Homo sapiens: one gene and its partners. The protein of the gene in region 1 purifies or fractionates together with the protein of each later gene. This does not show direct contact. Each region holds a gene or a part of one and is shown in the gene's direction. Other genes may lie near its edges.

Region 1 (3,500 bases):
AACAAATCTTAAAGATGCTAAACAGCTTCTAATTCAGCAGAAATTAGAACTTCAAGGAAAAGCGGACTCCCTGAAGGCAGCTGTTGAACAGGAGAAGAGAAATCAGCAGATACTAAAAGACCAGGTGAAAAAGGAAGAAGAGGAGCTGAAGAAAGAATTTATTGAGAAAGAAGCTAAGTTGGTCAGTGAGTTAATCGGGGGAAGTGTGTTTTGCAGTAGAGCTTTAAATCAATCCAGTGAGAGGACTGTTCTACTTATAAGATCTGATTGAAATGCTTTCCTAACATTTTAGTTTTTGATTAAGGAAGGAGATCTGATTTATTTACATAGCTGACATGTGGTTGGAAATATTTTACCCTGTAACCATAATTCTGTTTTTATAAGTGAACATTGAAATGAAATAAAATTAAAAAATTTTTTTTGTTTTTTAAGTGTCAGAAGCTAAACAACCCCACAACTACGTAGATCTGGTAAATGGTGTGAATGCTAGTCATGTTAAACCCATTTGTTGGGTCAAAACGAATGTTGATAAGGGGGAGCGGAAACTTGAGTTTGAAATTATGATGAACAAAGTCTGCTTTTCCTTTCCTAAGTTGCACATGCCAAATGGGAAGCATCTGGCTTTCCTCTGTTGAATTAAGTCCAAATATGCCCAGATAACTTGGCCATTGAATATTTTAGTTGAAGAGTTTCAATTTTAACTTCAAACAGTCATTTGAAGGTTTCATAATGGTTTTTGGCAGACTGATAGAGAAAAGAAAGCATATGGAATTGGGACGAATAAGGAAATTTCAGCTTTGTCTCTAGGGCACCTTGCTATCCCTAACCATATGTGTCTTTCCTGCTCTGGTGGAGAAGAAGAAAGATCTCACATTGTGTCACTTTAGCTCACCATCATGATGGTCACTATCCATCATTTCAGCATTTTGACCTTTGAGCCAATTCATATTACATAGATGCTTGTGGAATCAGTTTTATTAATGTGTAATGAAATATGTTCTCCTGCCTCCATTCCCGAAGAAGCAAATTGCCAGTATTTTAAATGTAATAAATCACTTACATTTATTTTGCACTACTTTTGTAATAGATTTCCCCCCAACTTTTCCTTTTTTTCAGCATTCCGAAATAAAAGAAAAGGAAGTAGGAATGAAGAAGCATGAAGAAAATGAGGCTAAACTTACCATGCAGATTACAGCATTAAATGAAAACTTAGGCACTGTGAAGAAGGAGTGGCAATCTAGTCAACGGAGAGTTAGTGAGCTTGAGAAACAAACGGATGACTTACGGGGTGAAATTGCAGTATTAGAAGCAACGGTTCAGAATAATCAAGATGAAAGGAGAGCACTACTGGAAAGGTGATTGATATCTAGTAAAATTAGTTTATTTCCATTGTAAGTGATAAAAAGATTGTCATATTCCATAGTTTTTAAAAATAGAAGAATCTTGAGAAAAGTGCATAAGCCTCTATAGGTATTTAAGTAGCCATTTAAAAATTAACCTGTAAAACAATCAGATAGTCAAAATTAATGTATCATATATTTTAAATTACTAAAGTAGTCCATTATCTATACCCTAGAAGGGTCTTTAAATGATTTTCTAAAAAATTAATTACCTCTTTGCAATCTATTCCAGATGTCTTAAAGGAGAAGGTGAAATAGAAAAGCTTCAAACCAAAGTATTAGAATTGCAAAGAAAGCTGGATAATACAACTGCAGCAGTGCAGGAGCTGGGCAGAGAAAACCAATCACTTCAGGTCAGTCACCTATGGATATGAAGCAGTTTTTTAGTCTAGAATTGGCTTATTAGTGAAAAGCATATTTTTACCTTTTAAAAAATCTCATGTTTTATAAATACTTTCAAATAGCTACTCTCTGTTTAGCAGTATTGTAGGTTTTGTGGATAATTAAATATAAAAGTAAAGAACTTGTTTCAGAGACCTCAGAGATTCATTAGAAAGCCATGTCATTCATTAATTGTTAGTATATGGAAAGAACTACAAAATTCAAGAATACCAAAGAATATATGAGTCAGTATGTGTTAAAGAAGCGATCTGAGTATATTCTCAGAGTCACCAGGGAAAATTCATCATTATGTTTAGAATGGATTGGAAATCAGCAAAGGTTAGCAAGATATTTCAGGAATAAAATTCAATTAATTTTATTTTGTCATTCAGATTTATGAGTATAGCTACTTTTGACAATAGAAGCTGACCAGTGTATTTCTGATTTTTAAAATTTTATTTCATGGGTCATATAGTCAAAATTTTATAGAACTCTGGCAGCAAGTTAGAAATAATCTAGCATTCTTTAAAATGTTGAATACTATAATATATCGATACTTCTTTAAAAAACAGATCAAACATACACAAGCGTTGAATAGAAAGTGGGCCGAAGACAATGAAGTACAAAACTGTATGGCCTGTGGGAAAGGCTTTTCAGTAACAGTGAGACGGGTAAATAATTTTGTTCATGTAACTATGTTTCTGGATTTCATTTGTCACTGATAATTAATGTTTTAACCATCAAAATAGTCCTTCATTTGACAGAATAATTTTCTGTTTATCAGTAAACTTTAACAACAACATAGAATAACTTCATGCAGTCTAGCTTTTGGTTAGCATATGTGTTTGAATTTTACTTTTAAATTCAGTCCTTGTCTTCCAACTTAGTTACTGTCTGGGACAATCATTTTCTGAATCAGTGCACCAATATTAAACTCATGTTTTAGTAATCATTGGGTTCTTTAAAGGAAGAAAAAGCAGAGGTATTTTAAAAATATATTCTAAATACTACCATTGTGTTAATGACTTAAGTTTATATTTCTTTTGGAGACATTAGTGCCTGAAACATTTGGCAAATAGGAATAGTTTTTCATTTGATAGAGATACTTTATAAAAACTTTTTAAATGCCTCCTCTGGTTCTTTTGAGAGTTCCATAATAAATTCTATGTAAAATGTTTAGCATAGTGTTTGATAAATAGGAAGCATTCAATTTAATTATAACAGAGATTAAGTTAACATATTGAAACATATCATTAAATAATATACCAATGACTTGAAAGCTAATGTACCTTCATAATGTAGTTGGTGGTATTCATGTAGTTTCATAATACTTTTGGTATAGTTTTTATTCTTGAAATTGTTTAATTTTTGTCATTTACAGCATCACTGCCGACAGTGTGGAAATATCTTCTGTGCTGAATGTTCAGCCAAAAATGCCTTAACTCCTTCCTCCAAGAAGCCTGTTCGTGTCTGTGATGCATGTTTCAATGACTTGCAAGGATAATGGGTTATCACAACTTCAGAGTAATATTACACTAACATTAGATTTTTAATAAATGTACTTAATAGAGGTCTTGGACTACTATTTGGTTTGGACACTGGTTGCAATACTAGACCAAATAGGAATTAGTATATTTTGGAATGTTATGGATATCAAGTAAAACTCTTCTATTTTTGTGAGACTTGGGCTTATCATCTTTCATTACTTTTTTCCCATTT
Region 2 (3,500 bases), on another chromosome or scaffold:
TCCAAAGGAAATTGCCTCAGATCTTGGTGGGAGCTGGGCGGTCAGAGACAGCACCGCCTCGGGCTGGAGTGACATTCTGGGGCCTCCCTTGTTTTTCTTGAATTTTGTTCTTTTGTTGGTTTTCCTGCTCTGTGGGATATTTTTGGCATCCTCTCCCTTCCAGCCGGGGCAGAGCCCTAGGACAGCAGGACAGGAGTGGCACGTGGGGAGAAGCCACCTGCCACTCGGCACCCAGCAGAGTTACTTTCAATGCCTGACTTCCTGACCCTGCCACACTGGGCATAACTCCCCAGGCAGCAGGAGAGTGGGCACCCAGCCCACCCTAACTGCAGGAAATAGCAGAGCCCACAGTCATGGTGTGAAGAAAGTGCTCTGGGCCGGTGCTTCCTGCACAGAGATCCCTGAATGATCCCATCCACCCGTTCCACCGTTGGTGGGAGCAGGGGTTCAGAGAGGTTAAGTAGTGTGCCCCAGATCCCAGAGCCAGGAATAGCAGAGCTCGATTCCAATGCAAGCCCGTCTGACTCTAGAAGCCCAGGTCACTAACCACTAGCCTATACGGCCTCCAAAGAGAGCAGGGAGGGCGTGATGGGCTCCTCCTCCCTAGAGAAGGAGTGCAGACGCCAAGTTTCTAGGCGTGGGGTGCCTGAGTGGAGCTTTCCCAGCTTCCCTGCTAAGCCCCAGCAGCCCATCTCCACTTAACAGATCTGCTTTTCCCCCGGCAGACCTGATGTCTTTAAAGAGGATGATGGAGAAGCTTGGTGTCCCCAAGACCCACCTGGAGATGAAGAAGATGATCTCAGAGGTGACAGGAGGGGTCAGTGACACTATATCCTACCGAGACTTTGTGAACATGATGCTGGGGAAACGGTCGGCTGTCCTCAAGTTGTGAGTACCTCCTTCCTCCCTTGGGATCTCTGAAGGCAAAATCATTCTGTGCAGAGAGGCCCCTGGCTCTGGGCACCCCAGCCATTCCCCACCTAGTAGGTAACTCATTGTGCGACCTGCTGGACAAGGTACTTACTTCTCCTGATCCTGATTTCCTTATCTGTCAATTGTTTGTTTGTTTTTTTTTCTTTTGAGATGGAGTCTTACTCTATTGCCCAGGCTGGAGTGCAGTGGTGTGATCTTGGCTCACTGCAACCTCCGCCTCCTGGGTTCAAGTGATTCTTCTGCCTCAGCCTCCCTAGTAGCTGAGATTACAGGCATGCACCACTATGCTTGGCTAATTTTTGTATTTTTAGAAGAGACGGGGTTTTGCCATGTTGGCCAGGCTAGTCTCAAACTCCTGACCTCAGGTAATCTGCCCTCCTCAGCCTCCCAAAATGTTAGGATTATAGGCGTGAGCCACCACACCCGGCCCAAATGGTCATATTAATATGTACCCTGTAGGGGAAATTAGCTTGTAGCAGAGTCAGGCAGAATCAGTACTCAGTAAGTGGCAACTGTGATGATGATGATGGTGGTGATGGTGATAATGGTGATAAATCTGTTGAAACTTTCCGAGCCTTAGTTTTCCTTTTTTTTTTTTTTCTTTTTGAGATCTCGCTCTGTCACCCAGGCTGGAGTGCAGTGACATGATCTCAGCTCACTGCAACCTCCGCCTCCTGAGCTCAAGTGATTCTCCTGCCTCAGCCTCCCGAGTAGCCAGGATTACAGGTGTGCGCCACCACACCCAACTAATTTTTGTATTTTTAGTAGAAATGGGGTTTCGCCATGTTGGCCAGGTTGGTCTCAAACTCCTGACTTCCAAGAGATCAGACCCCCTCGGCCTCCCAAAGTGCTAGGATTACAGGCGTGAGCCACCATGCCTGGCAGTTTCCCCATTTGTAAAGCACCTCCACTACCCCCACAGGCTTGTAAGCATAAAATAGAGTCAAAAATTGGCCCCAAAGGGAGGCAGGGTTTGCATCTTGATGCTATTACTTGCTACCAAAATGACCCTGGGCAAGTTACCTTAGGTCTGCGAGTCTCAGTTTCTTCATCTATAAAATAGGGGTGATAATCATGTCTTCCGTGATGTCCTGAGGGCTAGTGAAATGACACTTATGAAGATTTCAGCCTTGTGTGGCTGATGGCAAACACCTACTACGTGGTAGCACATTGTGGGTGCTGCCCCATTGAAGAGCGTTACAGCATTGCCCCAGGGCAGTCTCATTGTCATTTGTCACAGCTGAAAATAACACTCTGCCAGGTGCCCTGGCTCACGCCTTTAATCCCAGCGCTTCGGGAGGCTGAGGCCGGTGGATCACCTGAGGTCAGGAGTTCGAGACTAGCCTGGTCAACATGGTGAAACCCCGTTTCTACTAAAAATACAAAAATTAGCTGGGTGTTGTGGCTCACGCCTGTAATCCTGGCTACTCGGGAGGCTGAGGCAGGAGAATCACTTGAGCCCAGGAGGCGGAGGTTGCAGTGAGCAGAGATCGTGACATTGCCCTCCAGCCTGGGCGGCAAGAACAAAACTCTGTCTCAAAAGAAAAAAAAAAAAAAAAAGAAAACAGAAAATAACACTTACTTGGCTTTTATGAAATAAGATTCACTTTTTTAAAGTACGAATGTAAAATATACCTGTCTCATTTTACAAAGGAGCTTGTTGAGGCCCAAGGAGACTGAGTACCTGGCCCATGAGCCCACGGTCCAATCTGGCCAGATCTTCTAGCACCCCACTTCCAGGGAGAAACGCCAAGGATCAGAGAGGTCAAGTGTCTTGCTTGAGCCACCCGGCTGGGAAGTAGCAGGGCTGGCATTTGAATCTAGGCAGTTGCCCTAGAGGTTATACGCTGAGCCCCTACCCTCTACTCCCCAGACACCACTCTCAGAGCAGTGGGCAGGTTTTTGAAGATCTTTGCGCAGAGGCGTGGCCCAGCCTGGCTCAGCCTCCTCCAGGCAGTGTGGTTAAGGGAAGGGTATGGCCTGGAAGTCAGAAGCCTGGAGTCGTACCCAGCCTCTGCCCTGGACCGCCTGTGTGGTTCTGAGGAGTCATATCACCACTTTGCGCCTCCATTTTCTCCTCTGTAAAATGGGACTAGCAGCCCCTTCCTTGGAGCTGCTGTCTTGGGCTTCTGCAAGGATCCCACTGGAGAACAGATTTAAATTCTGTTGAGGACCCTGCTGACATGAGGCTGGGATGATCTTTCCCTGGATGAGGGAAGGATCCTAATCTTGTTTTTCTTTCTTTTTTTCTTTTCTCCATCTCCAAACCAGAGTCATGATGTTTGAAGGAAAAGCCAACGAGAGCAGCCCCAAGCCAGTTGGCCCCCCTCCAGAGAGAGACATTGCTAGCCTGCCCTGAGGACCCCGCCTGGACTCCCCAGCCTTCCCACCCCATACCTCCCTCCCGATCTTGCTGCCCTTCTTGACACACTGTGATCTCTCTCTCTCTCATTTGTTTGGTCATTGAGGGTTTGTTTGTGTTTTCATCAATGTCTTTGTAAAGCACAAATTATCTGCCTTAAAGGGGCTCTGGGTCGGGGAATCCTGAGCCTTGGGTCCCCTCCCTC
Region 3 (3,394 bases), on another chromosome or scaffold:
CCATCTCTACTAAAAATACAAAAATTAGCCAGGTGTGGTGGCACTCACCTGTAGTCCCAGCTACTCAGGAGGCTGAGGCAGGAGAATCACTTGAACCTGGGAGGCAGAGGTTGCAGTGAGCCGAGATCATGCCACTGCACTCCAGCCTGGGAACCAGAGCAAGATTCCATCTCAAAAAATAAATAAATAAATAAATAAATAAATAAAAATAAAAGTAGTATCCTACTTTGCTTTAATTTGAAAATTTTAAATTATGACTGTGTGGTGCATTTTTTTATATGCTCATTGTCCAATTATTTTTCTTCCGTGAATTGCTTCTTCAGGATTTTTCTTCCTTTGCCCATTGAATTGCTGATCTTTTTCTTGATTTGCAGGAGTTCTTTTTAACTTAAGGAAGTTAGTTCCATGTCTGTCATTTCTGTTGCAAAAATGTTTCCCAGTGTATTTTTTTGTCTTTAGCATTTTAGTTTTTTTTTTTCTGTACTGCGTTTTTAAAGTTGTGTTGTTTTTATTAACCTTTCGACCTTTTTCTTTAGGTTTCATGTCTTGCTTAGAAAGATCTTCCTTACTTTAAGATGACAGCTGTCCAAAAAATTAACTCATGGTTTCTTCCTCTACTTTTATGGTTTCATCTTTCACATGTAAATCTTTGATCTGTATCAAATGTATTTTGGTGTAAGGAGTGGAGAAGGAATCCAATATAACTTGTTAAATTTTTTTCTAGATGGCTACTATTTCATCCAACATCATAGTTACAGTCCATCTTTTTCTGACTGACCTGGAACGCTACTTTTATCATAGATTGAATTCCCATGAGGCTGGGTTTTTTGTTGAATGATTTAAAGTCTATCCAAAGGGAGAGGCTCATAAATGAGTGTTTTGAGAGTTCGACTCATGAGTGAAGAGCACTCTATCCCTGGGAAAATGTCCAAGGGAGTGAAACTGGAACTTTCCCCCTTGCCTCCAGTTGGGCGTCCTTCTGTGCTCATCTGCCTTCTTGTTATTGGTATTACAGATATCTGAGAAATATGGGCTGCCCGTGGAGAAGATAGCAAAGCTTTACAAGAAAAGCAAAAAAGGGTAAGAAAGAAACTGAACTTAAATTGACTTTCAAATCAGATAAATCCACATGATGCCTTAAAAATAAAATGATGCCTGTCTTTTGTTAGGTCTGTTGCCCACTTTTCATAAAAATTGTGTCCTTCTTCCAGAGAATTGCAGAGGAGATTGCATTTGGAAGATCTTTAGGAGAGAGGGAGGGAGGGAGGCAGTGCACTGGCACTATGTCAACTGAGATGCCTATTTCAATGACAAGACAAGCAGGAAGACCACAGAGGTCTGGAGGTGCTGTGGACACTGGGGAGAATGGCAAAATCACCTTTCTGCAGGGAGTGGAGTTTATAGGGAATCACGTATGGCCCTTGGGGTTGGTTTCTGGGTGGCATACTAGGAACAAAAAATGGTTTGGAACATAGGGGATTCCTCTAAGGTAATTATCAAGAAAATGTTCTCAAATGATCATTGGACCTGTGTGTTCTCATTGTTAAGAACAACAGGTCATATTTACTGGGTGTTCAGTAGGTTTGGGGTCCCTTCCTAAGTACTTTACATGTATTCCTCTATTTAGTTCTCACCACTTTATGAGGTGGAATCTCTTATCGCTGATTTATTGATGAAGAAAGCAAGCCAGAGGGGGCTTAAGCATGTCGCCCAAGTCTCATGTTCAGTAGGTAGAGGACAGATTTGAACCCATCTGTGTCCTCAAAGCTCAAGTGCTTAGCTTCCACGTTCTGCCGTCTGACTTTCTGTGTGGGCTTCCTATGTGTGACGGTCTAAGAGTAGGGGCCACAGGAGCTAGTGGAAGTGCCAGGAGAGGGTATCTGTTGACTCAGCTTCTGGGGTATTTTCCTACAAAAGGCAGAAGATGAGTCAACTCTTCTCCGGATCACTTTCATAAAGGAAATTGGATTATCTGGGAAGCTCAGGCTTTCTGAGTGATGAGTCCTGTTGGTTGATTGGAGGATCTGACAGGAAACCCTTTCCACCTGAGCTCTTGTTGGAAGATTCACTAAAATGCACGTTATACTTCTTGCCGAGGTCAATGTAGTAGGCTGGGTGTATTACTGACAGTGAGATTTCAGTCGTGTCTCACAGTCTTATTGCCGAGCAGAAATCCTCAGTGCAGAGGTACATGCTGATGATAACATTTTGCTTTCATCAAGCTCTGTATCAGGTGTTGTGCTAAATGTTTTTATCATAAAAACAATCCGTTAAAGCTAAGTGACTGTTCTTATTTTTACAGGAGGATAAACTGAGGCTCTGAAAGGCTAAACAGCTTGCCTGCTGACACATAACTGTAAAATGATAGAGTCAGTCAGTGGTTCATTCTCAAACCAGCATCTGTCTGACTTCAAATCATGAAATTGGCTTAAGGAAATTATGGAAGTCTCTGGAAGCTGTTGGCTTTCTTAAAACTCTATCAGGGATAGTTAGCCACAGGAGTAGGTCACAGGTGGTAAAGTACAAGTGTCAGAATGAGGTAAAGCTAATTTCAAAATCAAGCTCAGCCATGTGCTAACTGAATGAACTTGGGGAAACAATTTAACCTTGTTGAGGTCAGTTTTCTCATTTGCAAAATGGCAATGACACCTACCTTCACAGTTGCTGTGAGAACTAAACACAAGGTCATATTACATGCTCAAAAAAGGGTAGCTGCAATTCTTGCTTGTTTTCCTCTTCCTCCTAAGAGCAGAGGCAATGCATTTTTAAAAATGCATTTTCAAGGGCAACATGGTTTACTGAAAAGAGTTAGAGAGAGAGCCTAATGATTTAGGTTCTGGCCCTGGTAATCAGTAACTGTGATTCTGGGCTTCCTAACTTCCCTGGGCCTCAGTTTACTCATCTATAATGCAAGCGGTTTGGGTTGAATGTTAGTTCTGAGAAATTGAGGCTTTGCTTTCCTCAAACTAGTTTTTGGGCAAAGAAAACAGAATGAGGGTCTTTCCCTGCCTTGTGTCCTCTCTCCTCCACTCCTCCCAGCCTCCACCACAAAAGAATGGCTACGAGAACCCCCAGCCTGGAGCTCCCCTTGCCCTGGGCACATTGTTCACGGCGTCTTTGTTTTTCACACCCCTCCCCCCTCCATGGCAGCATCTTGGTGAACATGGATGACAACATCATCGAGCACTACTCGAACGAGGACACCTTCATCCTCAACATGGAGAGCATGGTGGAGGGCTTCAAGGTCACGCTCATGGAAATCTAGCCCTGGGTTTGGCATCCGCTTTGGCTGGAGCTCTCAGTGCGTTCCTCCCTGAGAGAGACAGAAGCCCCAGCCCCAGAACCTGGAGACCCATCTCCCCCATCTCACAACTGCTGTTACAAGACCGTGCTG
Region 4 (3,500 bases), on another chromosome or scaffold:
ATAGCACCAACCCCGGAACAGGTAAACGAGCCTGGGGTCAGAACCGTCAGGTCCAGGCAGGTGGGCCACACACGTCAGGGAGGGCCCCCTGTCAGAATTTACCATCCACGGAGCCTCCACTTCTTCCTCACAGCAGCCCACAGGGTATGTGTGGTTCTTCCTGTTTGAGCGATGAGACTCAGAGAGGTCCATTCACTTGCCCAGAGCACACAGTCATCAGAGACAGTTGGGATCCAAGCTCACGTCTGTCTGACTCCTGGCAGGCACTGCCCTGTACCTTGGCCATTTTCCAACCTGTGTTTTCTGCGGGGCCCTCCAACAGCACCATGGAGAGGTGTCCTGTACGCAGCCCCTTCAGGCCAGCTCCACCTGTGTGGTTTCTTACACACTCACAGCTTTCATTTGAGCTGGGCATGGTCACGTGCGTCTGTGATCTTAGCTTCTCAAAGGTTCAGGCAGGAGGATGGCTTGAGCCCAGGAGTTTGAGACCAGGCTGGGCAACATAGAGAGACCTGTTTCAAAAAAAAAAAAAAAAAAAAAAAAGGCTTCATTTGAAGAGAGGTTCTGCCTGAAAAGTTTTCAAACATCTGTGCAAAAAATAAAAAACATATGTACATTGTACCATGCTGCTTCCCATGAAGTCTCAAGAAGGTCTGAAGCTTTTTTGTTTGTTCTGAAACAGTCTTGCTCTGTCACCCAGGCTGGAGTGCAGTGGCACCATCTAGGCTCACTGCAACCTCTCTCTCCCAGGTTCAAGCAATTCTCCTGCCTCAGCCTCCTGAGTAGCTGGGACTACAGGCATGAGCCACCATGCCCAGCTAATTTTTTGTATTTTTAGTAGAGATGGAGTTTCATCATGTTGGCCAGGCTAGTCTCGAACTCCTGAGCTCAAGTGATCTACTCGTCTTGGCCTCCTAAAGTGCTGGGATTACAGGCATGAGCCACCACACCCAGCCAAGAAGGTTTGAGGCTTAGTATGAGATTCTAGGGGACAGGTTTTCCCAGCCCTCTGACTAGCTTTGAAGGATTACCCACCTCAGAGCAGGTGGCACCCTGGGCATGTCACTTCCTTCCTCCTCATGGCCCACTGGGCCATGAGCTGCTTGTGGAGTGCCATGGCTGCTGTATCTGCTGAGTGACTTCTACAGCCATGACCAGCTCGTAGAGCTGGGGGCTTGTCATTCTAGACTTTTGGCTGCTGGGGTGGGGGCAGAGGCCTGCACACTGTGGAGACACCCACGTTAAAGGTGTTGTACACACATCAGGCCCATCACATCCGCGGAGCGTAAAGGTGGAGCTGCTGAGTGTGCTGGTGAGTTAGACACGGATGTGTGATGGAAAGAAAAGTGAAGCTTAACTTTCCCAATAAGCGTCCCCACTGCCCACTTTTTGTATCATTTGAACTCATTCTCACCCTAACCTATTTGAAGAGAAACTTCCATGATTTGTTTTCTCATAGCAAGTTATGAAATCACCCCTCAGAGTTACAGATATTACTAGAAAATTTTGCTAACTGGACAAAATTATTAACGCACTGCCCGTTTGCCCCAAGAATACTCTTGTCTCTAATCCTAATGTAACCTCATATACATTTCTGTTACGTTAGGATTGGAGACAAGTTCTGTTTAGAAATAACTCCAAGAACAGTTTTTATGTTTTATTTTCATGTTGAAAATCAGTCAGGTTTACTTCAGCCTCAAAGAGCATGTTTATGTAAAATTAAATGAGTGCTGACAGCGAGCTGCACTTTTTTTTTCTGAGTGGGTTAAAGGTGTGTAAAAAATTGTAAAACCACCTTGTGATTGTCTAACTCAGTTATGATTTTAACCAATTTTCTGAAGTCTAGCATCTGTGTGGATTAAGACGCTAATTACTTCCAATGCAAGAAGGTGCTTGCTAAACAAAACTAATCTTTGTTTAATTCGAGAGTCCCCTTTTGTCTCTTGGGACATGTTAAGACATCAGGTGTGCAGTGATGTTACTCCCAGACTCCTCTGTAATTAAGTCCCATCTGATTTGGATACATGGGGTTTGTGATCAGTAGTTTTTCCACTCACTCATACCAAGAGTGTTCATTAAGTAAGCCAAATAGATCAAACATTTTGCAGGTTTTGGAAGGTGTCAGTGAACCATAGTGGATATACTACTAGTCTCTACACTCCATTTCTTCATCTATAAAAGCAGGGATATTGATGTCTACCATGGTAAAAAATTAAGTTAGCAATATATGTTCAATGCTTGGCACTTATTAGGTAGTCTATAAATGGTAGCTGCTGTCACAATCATGAATGTATATAGTGACACTCTGAAATCAACTATAACTCAGCCACATGATTTAGAATGTACCAGCATTTCTCAAAACATAAAAAGGTTCTTCAGTCAAATAAATCTTAGAAGCTTTCAGACTGATCTTTTCCCAGGCATTCCCAGTGTGCATGAGGGCATTAAACACCCTACAAGGTCCCACAGCATAAGATCCTTATACCAATGGCCTTTCACAAGCTAACCTCTTTGAGGAGACTGCAGCTTTATTGAAAATGTTTCCCCAAGCCCAACTCCTTGGAACCCTTTGACCATTGAAAACCTGCCCACATCCCTTGGAACAAGTGCTAAATCTGAGTTTCATATTCAAGGTGGGGTACAGGGCAAGGACTATCCTTAGATGAGCCTGGGACACCAAAATAGACCAGAAACAGGACAAAATCCCAGTCCACTAGGAGGAGAAAGAGGGCAGAAGCCCAGTCCACTAGGAGGAGAGAGAGGGTGGAATCCCAGTCCTCTAGGAGGAGAGAGAGAGGACGGAATCCCAGTCCTCTAGGAGGAGAGAGGGCGGGATCCCAGTCCTCTAGGAGGAGAGAGACGGCGGGATCCCAGTCCTCTAGGAGGAGAGAGGGTGGGATCCCAGTCCTCTAGGAGGAGAGAGAGGGGGGGATCCCAGTCTTCTAGGAGAGAGGGCGGAATCCCAGTCCTCTAGGAGGAGAGAGAGAGGGCAGAATCCCAGTCCTCTAGTGGGAGAGAGAGAGAGGGCCTGCAGCGTCCCTCCCCGCCTTGTGGGGAGCCACCCTCCAGGGCCTTGTTAGCTGCTGTGTTAGACCCAGGAGATGCTGGAGTCTTCCAGCCACACGTGGTGGCTCATTCCGGTGTGGAGATGGTAACGGTTGGTAGCGCCTCTGTGAGGGGTCTGTAGAAGGGGTGGGGCAGGCCTCTAGTGCAGAGCTGTCACTTTGGGAGCCAGGAGGGAGGCTGCCTAGAGAGGCTGCTGGGAGGTCGGCTCCCTGGTGCTGCACCCAGGGTTGGTGGTACTGGGTTCTGTCGCTGTGAGTAACATGGGCCCCAGAACCCTGGCTTCTCTCACCACGATCAACTGTGTGTTTCAGATTGGGAAGCTGCGCAGTGAGCTGGAGATGGTGAGTGGGAACGTGAGGGTGATGTCGGAGATGCTGACGGAGCTGGTGCCCACCCAGGCCGAGCCCGCAGACCTGGAGCTGCTGCAGGTGAGC

The links.
Region 2: the proteins of EEA1 (region 1) and AIF1L purify together in Homo sapiens (affinity purification with mass spectrometry; one large-scale study listed by BioGRID and IntAct). This does not show direct contact.
Region 3: the proteins of EEA1 (region 1) and GRHL2 fractionate together in Homo sapiens (co-fractionation; one large-scale study listed by BioGRID). This does not show direct contact.
Region 4: the proteins of EEA1 (region 1) and TOM1 fractionate together in Homo sapiens (co-fractionation; one study listed by IntAct). This does not show direct contact.

Annotation. Positions count from the first base shown.
Region 1 is NC_000012.12:92,775,796-92,779,295, reverse strand, and holds part of EEA1 (early endosome antigen 1), read left to right. Parts: coding exon 1-181; intron 182-1,116; coding exon 1,117-1,355; intron 1,356-1,359; exon of another isoform or gene 1,360-1,498; intron 1,499-1,612; exon of another isoform or gene 1,613-1,632; coding exon 1,633-1,753; intron 1,754-2,353; coding exon 2,354-2,452; intron 2,453-3,162; coding exon 3,163-3,285; 3' UTR 3,286-3,500. UniProt on the Homo sapiens protein: Binds phospholipid vesicles containing phosphatidylinositol 3-phosphate and participates in endosomal trafficking.
Region 2 is NC_000009.12:131,117,031-131,120,530, forward strand, and holds part of AIF1L (allograft inflammatory factor 1-like), read left to right. Parts: intron 1-725; coding exon 726-888; intron 889-3,204; coding exon 3,205-3,292; 3' UTR 3,293-3,500. UniProt on the Homo sapiens protein: Actin-binding protein that promotes actin bundling. May neither bind calcium nor depend on calcium for function.
Region 3 is NC_000008.11:101,663,439-101,666,832, forward strand, and holds part of GRHL2 (grainyhead-like protein 2 homolog), read left to right. Parts: intron 1-1,015; coding exon 1,016-1,080; intron 1,081-3,150; coding exon 3,151-3,265; 3' UTR 3,266-3,394. UniProt on the Homo sapiens protein: Transcription factor playing an important role in primary neurulation and in epithelial development. Binds directly to the consensus DNA sequence 5'-AACCGGTT-3' acting as an activator and repressor on distinct target genes.
Region 4 is NC_000022.11:35,323,894-35,327,393, forward strand, and holds part of TOM1 (target of Myb1 membrane trafficking protein), read left to right. Parts: coding exon 1-21; intron 22-3,377; coding exon 3,378-3,494; intron 3,495-3,500.